Linked DNA regions of Homo sapiens. The protein of the gene in region 1 interacts with the protein of each later gene in a pairwise test. Each region holds a gene or a part of one and is shown in the gene's direction. Other genes may lie near its edges.

Region 1 (9,218 bases):
GACAGGGTTTCACCATGTTGGCTAGGATGGTCTCAATCTCTTGACCTCATGATCTGCCCGCCTCGGCCTCCCAAAGTGCTGGGATTACAGGCATGATACACCACGTCCGGCTGACTAAACAAGACTTTCTAGAGTAATTGTGGCCTTCTATGCTAAATTTGCTTGTTGTCAAAGTGAAAGACCTGAAACAGTGTCTTCTTTGGCATTCTTCTAAATAATCACGTAGCCTGTTTAAGGACCTGTGCAGAGAATAAGAACTTTAAAAAGGAGTGCATCAAATGCTGCTGTTGTGGAAGAAACTCTACAAGGTGCACATTTGTAGCTATTTAAATATCCACAATGTTTTGGATATAAAGACAATTTTATTTAAAATTCTAATTTAGTTCTAGTTTGCTCCTTTGGAGTCTTTTATCTCAAAATCAAAAGATGGCCTTCCATAACCATAAACTATAGACAATTATATTAAATGAATTAGTTCTTTCTAGCCCACCAAGTAGGAATCCTCTGCAAATTTGCTGTTTTATAGATTAAAAAGAATCCCTCAGCTTCTGGCCTTTTTTTTTTTTTTTTTTTTGAGACAGAGTCTCACTCCATCACCCAGGCTGGAATGCAGTGGTGTGATTTTGGCTCACTGCAGCCTCTGCCGCCTAGGTTCAAGCAATTCTTGTGCCTTAGCCTCCCAGTAGCTGGAATTACAGGTGCACGCCACCACACGCAGCTAATTTTTATATTTTTGGTAGAGATGGAGTTTCACTACATTGGCTAGGCTGGTCTCAAATTCCTGACCTCAGGTGATCTGCCCACCTCGGCCTCCCAAAGTGCTGGGATTACAGGCATGAGCCACTGCGCCCGGCCAGCTTCTGCCCTTTTCATTGACTGCTTATACTACTTGGGTCCAGTGTGAACAGAAATTGTTTTTGTCCATTCAGTTCAAATTGCACTGTATTCTACATTTCTCTGGTTCCTCTAGTAATCATTTTTAACTCCTGTGCCACCATATTTATTTCATAATGGATGCCACTGCAGTCGCAGTGGCCCTAATGCTTTATAATTGATGGAAGGGTCTGATGAACTTTAACCGCCTCTGACAGAATGCTAAGATGTATGGGGAAGGGTAGGAGACTACTGTTAGCTTCTCTGCCTTCTCATTGGGTCTGGGTGATTGAAGGGTCCCCTCTAGCACGACACTTTGTAGTGGCTGACCCCTGATTACTCCCTGACAGACTGGTGCCCCTGCATTCTAGTCATTGTTAATGATCACAAACATCCATAATCTCCCTCTCCTAACAATAATCCAGGAAAACGAGCTGGTCTCAAAACCATATTTCTTAGGCCATTTATTGGATTTCATTGTTAACATTTTATTAAATAAGTCATTTTGCTTGGCTGTTATCTTGGGAAAGTTCTAGCTGAATAGGAAAAATATCAAAATATGCTACTATGCTTTCCCTTATCTAATTGTCTTGCATGGTACATTTTCTCTTAATATATGTGAATTGGCCAGACAGGGTTTTCACAGTGCCATCTTTATAACCTAAATTAGAGTTAACCTCTCCTGTTTTCTTAGAAAGAGTATTATCTTAAACATCTTCCTTAGAAATTAAACTCAGTGAATGGGAGGTGGGCCGTGCTAAGAATTTTATGAAGATATTCTCTGAATCTCCCTCTTACTTTACTTAGAAGTGCTGCCTTGTATTGTATTTCTATTTATCTTCATCTCAAAGTCAATTTGTGTCTTGGTGGTGGAGAAAAGGGCAAAATTGTTTAAACATAGGACTAACTAAGGCTCTTCAGTTGATATTACTATAAACTTTTTTCTAATTTAAGTTAAATATGTTTCAACCAAATACACATTGCTATGAAAATGAATTCCTGTAACTGTAAATCTGCTGTGTCTTTGATCCTGCCACCTATACAACTATAATCAGTTGACATATCCATTTCAGATATCAGTTTTATGAATTAATCAACCATCTGCTTTTTAAAAAATACTAAGTAAGGCTCTTTTCCATTTCAGAAAACAGATAAAAAGGAAAATGCAGGAAGTTTGGAGGCCATAAATGAGCCTATTCCTCAGCCTATGCCTTTTCCACCGAGCATTATCAGGTCAGGATCCCCAAAATTGGATCCTTCTGAGGTCTACCTGAAATCTAAGACTTTATATGAAGATAAACGTAAGTAGTTGTGGAATATTTCAGGAGAGCATATAACAAGATAAATTTGGATTTATTTTAGACTAGGACCTTCCCATCTTTCAGAAGCATATTGAAAAGTTATTCCTTCATTACCATTTTAATAGAACTCTGGACTTCTTCCATGTATATTCGACATTCACACATTCATTTTTTTCAAAATCATGCTTTAAGTGCTAGTTATCTACCAGATGCCATACTAGGTAACCAGAATACAGAGATAAATAGGTTACATAGGACCTGCACCCAAAAATATTATTAGAACTAAATGGAAAAAGACAAATATGTAATCAAATAGTATACAAATAAGTACACATAATAAGCCTAACAGGTACAGTGATAGAAAGATGAAATGGATAAATTGGGATCCAAAGAAGGAATATTCAGTTTTATCAGTGTGGGCAGTAGGAAGTGTCAGGAAAAGCTTCATACTGGAAGCAAAGCTTTAACTAAGTCATCAGGGATGAAAAAGTGTCTTTGAGGAAGATAAAAGGGAAAGATAGAAGGAATAGCACATGCACACTGGCCTTGCATGACTTGGGCTCTGCAAGTAGTTCACTTTCGCTGGGTGCAATTGGCAAGGAAAGTCACAGAGGAGAGCAGGAACAGATTGAGGAAGGCCAATGATGCCCTTCCAAGGGAGCTGGAGTTGGTCATATAAATAACAGAGAACCACAGAATGCCTTTAACTATAAGGAAGGCATAGTTTTGTGTTTTAGAAAGGTTTTTCTGGCAGGAGTATGAAGGATGAATCAGAGGTGTATGCAATTTGAGGGAGGGTGTGCAATTTGAAGAAGAAACTAAAGAGTTGACTCCTTACAGGAGTCCAGCTGAGAGATAAAAAGAGAGACTGCATAAGGCAGAAATTCATGCATGTTCCTACTAATTCACTTACTAATGATAAATCTTTTCCAAAGTAAAATTGCAGATTTGAGTAGGTATAATTTTTTAAAATTTATTTGTTCTTAGAAAGAGATGTAAATCTACCTTGGAAAAGATATGTACAAGTGGAATATATGTATAGTTGACTTAATGCTTATTTAACTAGTTGCAGAAGTACATCTTGATAATCCCAAGCCATATTCAGAAAGATGAAAACCAGTTGTACGCCCAGCAAAGCAATAATTTAAATTAGCATAACAATGTAGAATCCCTTTCTTCATACTTTCCATTCATAGCCTGATACATTATTAATACTGGTATAAACTCTGCAGTCCCATCAGGCTTCACCCATAAAATAAGTGAGTTGAACTGATGACTCTTTTTTTTTTTTTCCCCTGAGACAGAGTCTTGCTCTGTCACCCGGAGCTGGAGTGCAGTGGCACAATCTCAGCTCACTGAAACCTCTGCCTCCTAGGTTCAAGCAATTCTCCTGCCTCAGCCTCCTGAGTAGCTGGCACTACAGGCGTATGCCACCATGACTGGCTAAGTTTTGCATTTTTAGTAGAGACGGGGTTTCACCATGTTAGTCAAGCTGGTCTCAAACTCCTGACCTCGTGATCCGCCCACCTCGGCCTCCCAAAGTGGACTCTTTTAATCTCTAAAGTTCTACAATTTTAATAGGAAGTATATATCAAAAGATACTGCTTCTATAGAATATTATCAGGAATTTACTAATCTCACTTTTTACATAGTTCCCTGACATGTTTATTTCTTCTCTCTTTACAGTAAATACTTCTTACCTATAAATAACATTAATATTTTCCCAAAGGAAAAATTTTAGTCATGAAATAGATTTTTGTGACTTAATATTCTTTTTTTTTTTTTTTGAGATGGAGTCTTGCTCTGTTGCCCAGGCTGGAATGCAGTGGCACGATCTCAGTTCACTGCAACCTCTGCCTCCCAGGTTCAAGCAATCCTCCTGCTTAATATTCTAAGGAATACAACCTACCCTTTGAGGGTAGGACAGTATGAGTTAGGAGATTAGACCCTGGAAATCAACCTGGATTTAAATCTTAGCTTCACCACTTGCTATGTGACAATGGCCAACTTACTTACACCCTCAGTTTTCCCACCTAGAAAATGGGGCTAATAATAAATGTTAGCTCTTAATTATTTTCCTTTAAAATGCTATCATTTTGCAAAACTAGGCTAGGTAAGTAGTTCATATGGAATACTTTTCTGAGAGAAAGGTATTAGCTTGAGAGCAGGAATAAGGTATTTTACAGGCACTCTATACAGCAGTGCCTGTACAGATTTAATGTACCTTACCCAAGTGTTAACTTAGGTCATTTGCACCTGTCAAATATCAAACTCAAGTTTGATCATTCTGAATTCAACATTGTTATATTGATTGGACAGCATTAGAAGTTAATGGCAGTGTAATACTGAGTATATGGAAGTGAGAGTAAATGTTTCTAAACAGTCTTCATACAGTTTTGTTTAGAGCTCAAAACGAGGATTTATAGTTGAATTGTGTGTGTGTGTTACACTCTTGTGCAAATTTTCCATATTAAAAAGTTCTGAGATTATAGTTTATTGAGTTACTCTATAATATCCTACTAAATACTGAACTTTGTTTTGTTTTAATCCTTTTAAAATAAATCATAGTATTTATATTTTCTGATTTTCCTCAGCACCAAACACCAAAGATTTGGATGTTTTTCTTCGAAAACAAGAGTCAGGGTTTGGCTTCAGGGTGCTAGGAGGAGATGGACCTGACCAGTCTGTAAGTGTCACTTCTTTGGAACATGGCTGTTTCCTGTTCAAACGTTTTGAGTGGTGATTTGGTGGATTATGGTGTGTTTTAAGTTTTTTTTTCTCTGACAGTTTCATTAATATGAAGAATAACTGCATTTCCATTATTATCATAGTCCCTCAGTTATTGTGGTGTAGCTGAGGCTAAAAACTGTGGGTAAAAACTGAATATGTCAGCTGCAAATTAGACAGTGATTAATTTATTTACTTCTCTGTGTGAATAACTACATAAAGCTTATTTTAAGTTTATATTTTCCTTTGCCCTCATTAAACAGAGTCTAAGACATTTTCCTTCTCTAAGAAGCCTATAATCCCATGTCCTCTTTCCCACTATTACTCTATCTTCTGGATGCTCCATAAATGGTTGGCATGAGCCTGTGCATATTGTTTCACCTCGTCTTATTAATAGGTTGGCATTTTCATGCTCAGTACTTTGCATGTCATTTCATCTGTTACCTTTGAAACTAGAGGAATATAAAATAATTAATATTTTTGTCCAGAGGCATAAGGGTTATATTTGCAAAGCATTTGAAGTCTAGGATTTTGTTTACACATGATTCTCACATAAACTTGTTTTAGAGAACAAATGTAGTGGGTTTTGTTTCTAAGTTTTGCTCTTGGTTTGAATAACAAAGAAGTAATGTGTTCTGTAGCATTTTTAAGAACATATTTGCATTTTATTTTATATAATATCAATATATTATATATCAAAAAATATGGTTGGAAGTTAGGTGAAGAACAATAATCTTTAAAAATTACAGGCTTCTTATTTCTGAATAGAACATTTGATTTATGTAGTATAAATTTGTTCTAATTGGTCATATTGGTTACAGTTACAACAGTCATTGGAGACACATAAAGCTTAAGGCAGGTTGCCCTATGTAGAACAAATACTAGATACTTTAATTGTTCTTGGTATTTGTATTTTTGTTTTATTGCTTCCTATTTTGTTGATACTCATAATGTTCACTTAGACATTTTAAGAATTTGTCTCAAACAACTTAGAAGAAACCTTTCTTTTCTCTTAAATGTCAGATTTTAGCAGCTCTGAAACTAGCCTAAACATTCAGGATTGCCTAATTACAGGATTCTAATGCTGGTGAGCAAAATGAACCAGATTTGTTCACCTAGATGCAAGTGAAGCTTCAGGCCACTCTGTTCCCGCTGAGATTTAGAAACAAGAAATGTCTCTGTGCTGTGTATATTGAACTTGTACCGTTAGTCATATGTGATGGGAGTACTGTTGAGAATGATCCCAGTTGCTGTGAACAGTATGTAGAAAATCTTGCCTGATGACATTGAACAGACTTTTAATAGCTACTCTGCAGATTTATATTTTCTGAGTTTAGTGTTTTGTTTCATTGTAATGATAGGGATAATGGTTGTGCTTTTTGAGTTATCGAACAACTTTGTATTTTCTATTTTCTTTGTACACAGCCCTGAGGATCTATAAGGGATTACATAATACAATGTGGTTATTTGAAGTGCCATTTTGGAGAATGGGCACTTTCTCAGATAATACCTTTCTAAAATATAACTGTTTTCATAGTTGAACTGCAAAAATCTGTTGGTTTGCACAATGCTAAGTTAGGAATTCCTTAACTCTTCAGCTAAACTTTACACTGTGGACCAAACTGTACTTTGTTATCTTATCAGATATATATTGGGGCTATTATTCCCCTGGGAGCAGCTGAGAAAGATGGTCGGCTCCGCGCAGCTGATGAACTAATGTGCATTGATGGAATTCCTGTTAAAGGGAAATCACACAAACAAGTCTTGGACCTCATGACAACTGCTGCTCGAAATGGCCATGTGTTACTAACTGTCAGACGGAAGATCTTCTATGGAGGTGTGTGAACTTGTTCCTGCTCTGAAAAGTTAAAAAAGAAACAAAGATACTAGTCTACTTCCTGTGTAGTTTTGCAGGTTATTTTATTACATTCAGTAGTATCTAAGATAACCCATTTGGTGTGATCCAGGGCCTCACTGTGGAAGGCTATGCAAACACAAAAGGATTCAGAAATAATACTACTATAAAAAAATAAATTTTGGGCTTCTATATTAAGATTATTTTCATATATTGATGCATTTTGCAAATGTATTATAGGTGGGAGTATTGATTTAAATCCGGTTTTGTTTTGTTTTGTTGAGTTGAGGTAGAGTCTCACTCTGTCACCCAGGCTAGAGTGCAGTGGTATGAGCTCAGCTCACTGCAACCTCCACCTCTTGGGTTCAAGCGATTCTCCTGCCTCAGCCTCCTGAGTAGCTGGGATTACAGGCACACACCACCACACGGCTAATTTTTGTATTTTTAGTAGAGACGGGGTTTCACCACATTGGCCAGGCTGGTCTCGAACTCTTGACCTCAAGTGATCCACCTGTCTCAGACTCCCAAAGTGCTGGAATTACAGGCGTGAGCCACTGTGCCCAGCCTAAATTTGTTTTGTTTTTTTTTAAATAACAAATACAAAATTATTTAGTCATACCAAGATATCCCACTAGCTGAATATACAAAGATTTTTGGATCCCAGTGAAATCTGAGCTACTAAAGGAAAGTAGGATGTTTCTACTTGAGAAGTTTTAGTATAATTTAACATTTATTGAGTGCTTACTATGTCCTAGATGCATGGATTATTTTATTTAATCTTCACAACACTATGAGGTCATTATCTAGTTCTATGATTACTCAGAGAAAGGTTGAGAAACAAATAACTGGTAAGAGGTAGGGCCTGGATTAAAAGTTGCAGTTTAATTCAGAGATCAGGGTTTAAACCATAGCATTAGGATATGAATATCTCTTATAGTTTCTCGCCAGTAGCTTTATGAATAATTAAATAGAAATTCTTATAAGTGAATTCTTTCCACTTTAAAATTAAAAAAATACAACTCTGTAGCACAAGAATATAAGCCTCATGAAGGTATGAATTTTTATTTGTGTAGTTATCTGCTGTAAGCTCGGCACCTAAAAGAGTGCCTGTCTGGTACAAAGTGGACATTAATAAATGTTGTTAATTGGATGAATATTTACATCACTCTTAAAAATGAGGCACTGTATTTTTTATTGCAACATTCAAAGTAAAGGCCTGCCTCCTTTGGTAAATACCAGGCATTTAGAATGCATATAGATTGTAATGCAGTACTGCCTCAATTTGGTTGTGTTGGAGGCCAAATGTAACTACTTACAGTAAAATTGTGATGTTATACAACCTACGCTCTTCCCTGGAAAGAATCATGAAGAAGTTTCATAGTAGTTTGGTATTATTGGAGACATTTTAGCTAATACATTCTAACTATGCATTTTGAAAAAAAAAAAGAAAAAAACATATTCTTAAAACCATGTGAATTTTCAGCCAGAAAGAGACCTTATAAATATGGACATGACTGCAGTGTGTTGTGGTTATTATTAACGATGGTTTGTACCAAATTATGGCAAAAAATATGCCCTTTTTAAAAAATCAGTTAGGACTTTGTGTCATTCTCAAGTTCTGATGTCATCCTTGAAGAGCAGAAAAAGGTGTAGGTTAATTGGCCATTTGTCAGGAATTTCATATGACCCTGTCTATGCCCAGAAGTGTTTGCTATTCATGTGGACAGCTTGTTATGTGTCCCAGCAAGTTGAGGGGTGGAGGTTGGGGAGGTTGAAGGCTGAGAACTGCTAATGATGAACTCATCTTATATCATCACTCAGGAAACTGCAGTTGCAAAACACATCATATAAGACAAATCCTGTACAGGTAGCAAACTGTTATAATGGGGCAGCATTTCTGCCCTGATGCTTTAACCTCTAAGACAGACATCAATGAATATCAGTCACTGAGCTAAATTATATTTATAATTGATTTTAAAAGGAAGTTCATGTGTCATTCCTCATTATGTGTTTCATTAAAATTATTGGTCCATGTTATAAAACTTGATGGAACTAAAACAGTTTTAGGAAGAATTTTTTTACTATCAAATCTCACAGAAACTTTGAAAAGCTTCCTTTAAAATGAGATCATGAGGTCAGGAGTTCGAGACCAGCCTGGCCAATATGGTGAAACCCCATCTCTTCTAAAAATACAAAAATTAGCCGGGCATGGTGGTGGGCACCTGTAATCCCAGCTACTCAGGAGGCTGAGGCAGGAGAATGGCGTGAACCCAGGAAGCAGAGGTTGCAATGAGCCGAGATCGCGCCACTGCACTCCAGCCTAGGTGACAGAGCAAGACGCCATCTCGGGGAAAAAAAAAAATGAGATAACATGAGATTGTATGTATTTTTCAGTAATCCACTCTGAGTATTTGGGAAGTCGGATGGACTGCTGTTGCCTACATCTGCACTCAGATTATACC
Region 2 (9,218 bases), on another chromosome or scaffold:
ACCCACAATCCAACCCATTACAGTCACTGAACAACATGTTCTTAGTAACCAGGGCCTCTGTGATTACATAGATGTTCCTGGCACATCATAAAGTTTCATAAAACTTTTTTTTCTTTAAAGAAAAGGTCCCCAGCCCTGAATGTCCTTTGTACACGGTTTTGACTGCAAATGAGTTACTCCTCAAATTGGATGTTGAGTTTGAATAGGACCCTAGCATCCAATCTTAGGAAATCATTCTATTTCCTAAATATATAGAAACATGTGGGGGCATTTATGAAGATGCTCCATGTTAACTAGTAAAAAAGGAAAATTTGAACCAAAGTGGAATCAGCTATTTCTGGAATAGCTTTTAGAATTATAATTAACTGATCAATTGGAAAAATTGATTTATTTTGCATTCATAATCCTACTGACTCATAGTCTTGTTTCAACCTTCTTTTTACTTTATTACAGGAAAGTTGCTAAACATTTTACATAATCCAGGAATTTTAGAGCTGTTAGAGGACTCAGGCAACATTGTATCTAACTAATCCTTCGAGTTTCAAAACAACTGCAATAGGGCTCAGCCTCGTAATGCAGGGTAGTGATGAGGTCTTTGGACTGAAGGCCATTGCCCTTACACCACATCATTTTTGTTAATGCTACGGTAACAGTGAATAGAAAGCAAAGCATCTTTGGAAATAGTACTTCCTGTGAGGCCAATACAACAATGATGGCAATAATCGCTAGGTGTAAGTGCTTCAGAAGTGTGAGGGGGTCCTGAGAATGTATACACCTGGGCTGTAGAAAATTTCAAGAATCATTTCAAATAATGCTTTCATGCAGGTGTAATTTTCCCTGTGTAACAGATTGAATATAAATAGACTCTACAGATATTATATTGTGTATGTACATAGGAGCTGTTGAATGGAACTCTACAGGAAGCTTTTCCGTTAAAAAGATTTCATTCATTCATTCCTTCATTCTTTAATAAATATTTACTGTGTTCCAGGCAGTGGGGATACAGTGGTGACCAAACAGAATATCTGTCCTTGGGAAGATTAATTCTAATTTTATCATCTAGCTACATACTTCATCACACAGAGTTTTTTTCACATATCACAAATGCATAGCCGATGAACTTGCACAAACTGAACACATTGACTTAACTAGCACTCAGATCAAGGAACAGTGTAATGCACATCTGAGAAAGCCCTCTTGTGGTCCCTTCCAGTCATTACTCACCCCAAAGGGTAACCACTGAGGCACTGAGGCTTTTTCCTTATATTCTCACCATAGATCAGCAGCTATTGGAATCTCATCCTCATTTTCAAAGAGTACCTACCATCTGAGAAGCTCGGTAACCCATAGCAAATTTAACTGGAATGTAGAGCTTCTAACATATTCTTTAGGAAGTTTTGTGCATTTGAATCAAAAGACTGCTTTACTTCAGTCTTCAGCTGTTGCAATGATTGATGAAGAGGAAGTGATTTGAAAATTACTAAATACATTTAGATATGCTTTTCCCTTAAAATTTTATGCTTCCCTACCTGAAGCATCCCTTCCAGGAACCTTCCTGGCAGGTGAGGACAGAGGAGAGAACTGGATGCTAAGGGCAAAAATCCAGTGACTTATTTTACTTAAACATTTTACTGCCTTGGCAAATGAAAAGCTCCTTCTGTTTAAAACAGCCTCTATTGGGATCAAAGGCTGAAGTTTCTTCCCCCCCCCACAGCATTAATGAGATATAATTGACAAGTAAAAGTTGTATACATTTAATATGTACAACATGATATTTTGATATATGTATACATTGTGAAATGATTACCACAATCAAACTAATAAACACATCTATCACCTCACACAGTTAATTTGTGTATGTGTGGTGAGAACATCTCATCTCCCCAATTCCCCTACCCACTAGCAATCACCATTCTACTCTCTGCTTCTATGAGTTTGACTGAAGTTTCTAAGAATAGGAAGATGTACCAAAATGAATTGACAAATTTTTATTTTTTCTCTTAAAATTGAAGGCTACCTGAGGAAGGAAATAGGGGAATGGCTCAGCCTTCAGCGTCAGCAACTGTAAATCCTTCATTATCAGGTTGTCTTTAAATGGGGCAGCAAATGCAATATGTTTATTTAAAAAATGTTTTTGCTAAGTTTTTTATTGTAAAATATATATGACATAAGATATGCCATTAAACTATTTCTAAGTGTATACTTCAGTGGCATTAAGTACATTCACATTGTGTGCAGCCATCACCACTATACCTCTCCAGAACATTTTTTGCCTTCCCAAATTGTAACTCTGTACACATTAAACAATAGTTCATAACCCCTCAGCCCCCAGCCCCTGGCAACAAACATCCTACTTCCAGTCTATGAATCTGATGACCCTAAGTACCTCATATGAGTGGAATCATACAGTATTTATTTGTCTTTCTGTAACTGGTTTATTTTGCTTACCATAGTGCCTTCAAGGTTGATCCATGTGTCAGAATTTCCTTCCTTTGTAATGCTGAATAATATTTCATTGTATGTATATGCCACATTTTGTTTATCCATTCATATGTCATATATACTTGGGTTACTTTCATCTTTTGGCTATTGCAAATGATGCTGCCATGAACATGGATGTACAAATATCTGAGTCACTGCTTTCAATTCTCTGGGGTATATACCCAGAAATGAGACTGCTAGATCATATGGTAGTTCTATTTTTTTTTGAGACATCGTTATACTCTTTTCCATAGTAGCTGTACCATTTTACATTTCTGCCAACAATGCGCAGGGGTTCCAGTTTGTCCACATTTTCTCCAACACTTGTTATTTTCTGTTTTCTTGATAATAGCCATCCTAATAGGTTTGAAGTGCAATCACTGTTACTTTTTTTTTCTTTCTTTGTTTTTTTTTTTTTGGAGACGGAGTCTCGCCCTGTCACTTGGGCTGGAGTGCAATGCTGCAGTCTCGGCTCACTGCAACCTCTGCCTCCCTGGTTCAAGTGATTGTCCTGCCTCAGCCACCTGATTACCTGGGATTACAGGCACCTGCCACCATGCCCAGCTAATTTTTGTATTTTTAGTAGAGACAGGGTTTTACCAGGTTGGCCAAGCTGGTCTTCAACCCCTGACCTCAGGTGATACATCCACCTTGGCCTCCCAAAGTGCTGAGATTACAAGCGTGAGTCACCACGCCCAGCCACTGTTATCTTTTAAAGCTGTAAATTAATATCTATATATTCTGAACAAGTCATTCACAGCATTTCTAATTTATTGGTTTAACATTTATTAATATGGAGGTATATGGTTTTCAACAAGTATTAATTGATTACATACTTTGTGCAAAGCAAGAAATTGATGTTGTGGAGCATATGTGTTGTAGTCCAAGTCCAGGATAAGCCAGCATTGATGGCATACATTCATGGTATTTTTCTAAAATGTTGAATTAAAGTACCTATGTCTGTAATACACTTGTGCTAAATGATTTTGCTATGAGGATAAGTTAAATAAATATGCTTTTTTTACTGCCAAAAAATGGCATTATTATTTTAATCTAGAACAAGAGCAAATTTGCCTCATATCTGAAAATAGAAATATTCTTATGCTGAATGTTTAGGGATGTACTGGCATTGTAAATTATAGTTCCACATTGGGCATTTCTCCCTACCATTGAATCTTCCAAGATGACAGCATAAACCTTCACCACCCAATTATAATTGCTTAGCTGAGCTAATAAAAAAGATGTGGTGTCAACTTAATTGACCTATTTTACTGGCCTACAAGATTGGAATTTCAAATTAGAAAAAGGTAATTTTTAACAGTCTGATGGAGGGTTTCCATCAAGTGACTAAGAAGCTAGTGAAGATAAAAAAAAAAAAAAGCCAGTGGTAAAGGGAACAAATTATAACCACTAATGCTCCTGTACTCACATACTGTCCTAATGGCATATTCAGTTCGAACACAGGAATGATGAATCTTACTTGTATTATGTGCTCTCCGAATTTCTTCCATATTGCCCTGGACTAAAACATGGTTTAATTCACATGAGAATGAAAATGACAGGTACTGTCAGGCAAAAATGATCCTTTTGAAATTCTTCTCATTAAATAATGGTAGGAAGGGCTGGAAACTATATTTTGAATATATATATGTTGAATATATATATATGTTTAAATTTTATTATGTGCATAGTGTGTTGGTTCAAAACCCACTGTAACCAGAAAAAAAAAAAATCTATTTCTAGGGCAATCTGAGGGAATCCTGTAGGAGGTCTTCCACTGGGTAATATGCAATGAATTTGATTTATCTTTCTCAAGTGGGCTGAGAGCATTCAAAAAATTCAGTATGAGTATTCAGCATGTAGTGATCTTTTCTCCAAATTTCAACTTTAAAGCTAATTTCATGCCACTTTTTGATGTCCTTGGCATTTGAATGGCATGATTTATGGCATGCATTTTTGATGAACATTTACAGACTCATATTCAACACCACTAACAGATTCTCTCTCAAGGGAAAGGGGAAGTACTAATCTCCCATTAATTATGCCTTAAGGTAAGAGTGGCCTGTCCAAAGAGTTTTGTCCTGGAGTTTTTTGGTTCTTTGAGGAAGGATGGCTTGCGAGCGAGTCCGCTGCTGCCTTCCAAAACCTGGTGTGCCTTTTCAGTCCCTTACCTCAATAGAGAGCTGAAAGGACAAAAGTGAACAAAGGAGGCCTGTTTTGCCTGCCCCACTTGCTGGGCTGTTGTCTTGGCCCTTTTCAGTGAAGGGAGGGGGGAGCTGGGTCAAAGTTGAAGAACACTGAAAAGGAATTCAAGCTTCATGTTGAAATTTGAATTATAGCTTCAGTTTGAGTGCCGAGTAGATTAGTTCGAATTGAAATTTGTGAATCTGTGGAAGCTTAAGTGACAGATGGTGTTGGAACAACCTACATAGAGCTGGATGGCACACCCGAAATGTTGAGTGCCCAAGCGAGGCACTTGGTAAACATCTAGTTAACTGACAAAAGTTTTAAAACTGTAGGAAGTTCAGTTTGCTGCTGTACGCTGCATTAAAACATTGGACTGTGTGAATTAAGGGGAGGCCCCTGTGTCTGGCGCTCACTCAGATGCACTTGTTCCCCCTAATTGCATTGCAAATATTCTTCTGACTGTTCTGCGGCTTTCCCCTCTATTATCTAGTTGAATAAATACAGAAATGCCCAACCAGCTTCCCTTGTAAAATTGCATCGCAGTGTTGTGGTGTTGTCCACAGATTGTTTTGATGTGCAACAAGATACATCTGTCCTAAATATTGTCTAACCAGTGTTTTTTCTTCCCAGATAAGTATATTTATGAAGTGTGATTTTGGCTTTCTGCTCCCGGTGGGAGTCCATCACTCTTATATTTACTCTCGAAGTTTTTCATATGGCACATGGTTTTCCATTCATTTTGGTAGGCAGCATCTGATTGAAAACATTTCAGTAGGAAACGTTTTCTAGTGTGTGCATCACTAGAATAATAAAAGCAGCTACTAGGAGGTAGAGGGTACTAGAATGTATTATAATAAGTGAAATAAAAAGCAATTTTGGGTAATTTGAAATTCTTCCTGGTATTCTGTAAAACTGCGATTGGAAATGGAAAAATTGTAGTATTTGAAAACTGAAAAATTGAAAGTTGAAACATCACCAAATTTTGCTTTCGCATCTTTGACTGCTTAAATGACTCGACATAGTCTTTTCTTCTGATGTTAGTAGCATGATGGCTAAAAGCCATTTTTGTAAATGTATATTTAGTACATTCAAATGAATATTTCTACTTTTAGGGAAATAACATTGACATGGCAATATTTGAACAGTTAGTAACATGGAAATTCCAACATAATAAATACTCTAATGTGAACAACATCTAATTTACTTCAGAATGATTATATTAACTTACACGACATGTTGTGTTTTACATGAATCATGATATATACCTTGTGTGTTTCATGAATTTTAAGGTAAATTTCATTTTAATAGATGTGCTGGGGTTTAAAAAACTCCATGGTTATGTTTACGTTTCTAGTAACAGTTACTGTGATGTGAAATTATAATGGAAGGTAAATAGATGTCAAGGGTTCACTGCTGTCCTAAAACCATGAGGGGGTTCATTAAACAGCAGAGAGGGAGTGAGTTCATGATCAGACTCATTACCTCTAAAGGTAATAGCTTAAAATTTGAAAGAAAGAGAAAGGGAAAAGAATAAAAGTTTTTATGGCTATTGCCTGGCTAATGGAGAATAGTCTCCACTTCATAGCACTCAATACGAAATATTCTAGGGATATTTTACTGTAGTACTTTGGGTCATTGCAGTAACTTGACATCATAAAATAGAAATAACTCATAAGTCACCTTACAAAAATGAAATATGATAAGACATTTACATTTAAAAGAAATGTATTGAGAAGAATTTACTAAGAATTGAAAGCTAAAGTTATTTCAGTGTAACATGCTTAAATTCCTAGCCAAATCCACTCTATTTTCCAGCTGTTTTGTTCCTTTATGTACAGGTGGCCCTAGCTTGAGAAAGTTAGCATATGAAAATGTGAACTTGGTCGGGCGCAGTGGCTCACACCTGTAGTTCCAGCACTTTGGGAGGACAGAGTAGGCGGATCATGAGATCAGGAGTTCAAGAGCGCCCTGGCCAGCATGGTAAAACCCCCTCTCTACTAAAAATACAAAAACAAAAATTAGCCAGGCATGGTGGTGCGTGCCTGTAATCCCAGCTACTCGGGAGGCTGAGGCAGGAGAATCACTGGAACCCAGGAGGCAGAGGTTTCAGTGAGCCAAGATTGTGCCACTGCACTCCAGCCTGGGCAATAGAGCGAGACGCTGTCTAAAAAAAAAAAAAAAAAAAAAAAAAGAAAGAAGTGAACTTGGCAAACCCATATGGGGTGACTGTTCACATCAAAGAGGATTCTTCACTTTGCATAAGGATTATATGATGAGTGAGCTGCTGTAATGTATCAAAGTTCAATTCATGAAAAATTTTTCAGAAATATCTAAGTAGAGACTCTGTTGAAAGAGCAAATAGATACCAAGTGAAACCTAAGCAAATAAGGCTGAATAAAAATTAGTAAAGAGGTAGACAGGTGGGTCTGGGTGTGGTGGCTCATGCTAATCCCAGCACTTTGGGAGGCCTGGGCGGGCAGATCACTTGAGGTCGGGAATTTGAGACCAGCCTGGCCAACATGGTGAAACCCCATCTCTACTAAAAAAATGCAAAAATGAGCCAGGTGTGGTGGTGGGCGTCTGTAATCCCAGCTACTCAGGAGGCTGAGGCAGGAGAATCACCTCAACCCAGGAGGCGAAGGTTGCAGTGAGCTGTGATCATGCACTTGCACTACAGCCTGGGCAACACAGCGAGACTCCATCTCAAAAAAAAAAAAAGACATAGGTTGTAAATGCAGAGAGAACATACGATTGTATAAAAATATTTGATATTTGCTCTAAATAACATTGAGGGGCCGAGTCTGCATGATAAAGAAAAGCAGATAACTAGTCATCCAGGCATTGGGGGCCCTTGCTTATCTTAGTCAGCTTTCTCCATGTCTCCTAACTTCGGAAACCATCCTTGCTCTGTTCTGCGAGGAGCCTGAGCTGCTCTTCACATTATGCATGGTGGTATGTATCTGAGAGCCCCCAAATTTGATAAATGAGTGTGTGCAAGAATGAATGACTGAATACATGAATATTGCAAAATGTCAGAATGTCAGGTGGATCTTTGTTGGGGAAAATTGGGGGGTTTTGTTCTCAGCCCTGGTTTGAAGACATAGATAGATCTAGACCATGAGAAACCAAACATTTATAATTTCATGCCTGGACTCTGTAGATTGTAATTTGCTTGCTGGTTCTAAATTAGGCACTTGAGCAAGCAGGTGAAATCATTGAATCCAGAAGGGTACTATTTAAAAAATTTCTGCTGCGGAGGTCTAAATGACATCCTTGTGACCCCAAAGAGTTCCTCTATAATTTTCTACCTTTGCTAATGGCAGATGATTCCAGATTTGCACGTGGCTTTCCTTTCCCTTCACTGTCTGAAGCTGGTGCTTGTCATTTTCCTCCGGAGGTCTCTGGGTGGCTGCACACTGACTGAGTTAAGCACTTTCTGAGATTGCTTTCTACCCTCTGAATTTGAAGAAATCAGAAGTGAGGCACACAGAACTGAAATGAAAAATGAAGAGACTGGTTTGTGAAACAGATCAGAAGCTCTCATGCTGTAGCTTTAAAAATGGAACTTTCTCCCTTAAGATGTGAGTTGAACTACAGCATGGCCTTTCGTAACTAGTTAGTGGGTTATAGGGGTTGGATTCAGGGCAGTGGTGCCATATTAGAGACACCTAGAATAAAAAGTTATGTAACATCTTTGATTAATTAAAATTTGAGAAGAACTAGGCTACTACACATAGATTAAGAAAGCTCATACACTGCATGGCTTTGGAAAAGTTACTTAAGTAACTTTTCTTTATTTAGAAAATAGAGATAAAACACAAAATCTTTGTCACCACCCAACCCTACATCACAGGGGTATGTGACTGTAACAAATGATGATGAAATGAAAGTGCTAAGAGAGAAAGATGACGTAAATCTGTGTTATTAGGTAGAATGCACTTGACATTTTTTGCACCAAAAACATGCTTGAGGCATACGTATGTATCATGTATTCTTAACAATACATGTGGCTACTCGATTTTGAATAAATGAAGTGGTCTTGCACTGCAGCCTGGAGATTGATACCCTTGTTGATGCTGCAGGATAGGACTGTTCTCAAAACACAAATTATAACCTTACTCTCCAAAAAATGATAATATATATGTTAAAGTCATGTTGAGTCAATATGATAAAATAAGAGTCAGCAAAGCTGTCGGCAGTGTGTCCTTCTGAGAAGGAACTTTTTATTTTTCAGTTGCAGTCAATGTCCATAAATCTAATTGTATTTTATTTCAAGCCATAATCCATTCATATTTTTGAAAAGGACAGTCAATAATTTTGTTGTGTGTCAGGCATGACTAACTAGCAACCCCATAAACCAATAAAGCATGAAACCATTTTAATATATTAAATTCATCTAGTTTACAAACTGCATGTACTTAGAAGTTTGAAATAAAGGGAGATACATGCAGTGTGGCTTGTGAGCAGGTTTGTATATACAGTTGAGGTATTTTGCATTTATTCTGTTCCTCTGCACCTCAGTGAAGAGATGGAGATTAAAAATTGTAATC

The links.
Region 2: the proteins of MAGI3 (region 1) and NRCAM interact in a two-hybrid assay, tested with the Homo sapiens proteins (one study listed by BioGRID and IntAct).

What each region holds. Positions count from the first base shown.
Region 1 is NC_000001.11:113,644,469-113,653,686, forward strand, and holds part of MAGI3 (membrane-associated guanylate kinase, WW and PDZ domain-containing protein 3), read left to right. Parts: intron 1-2,017; coding exon 2,018-2,174; intron 2,175-4,768; coding exon 4,769-4,860; intron 4,861-6,545; coding exon 6,546-6,738; intron 6,739-9,218.
Region 2 is NC_000007.14:108,444,901-108,454,118, reverse strand, and holds part of NRCAM (neuronal cell adhesion molecule isoform A precursor), read left to right. Parts: intron 1-9,218. UniProt on the Homo sapiens protein: Cell adhesion protein that is required for normal responses to cell-cell contacts in brain and in the peripheral nervous system. Plays a role in neurite outgrowth in response to contactin binding.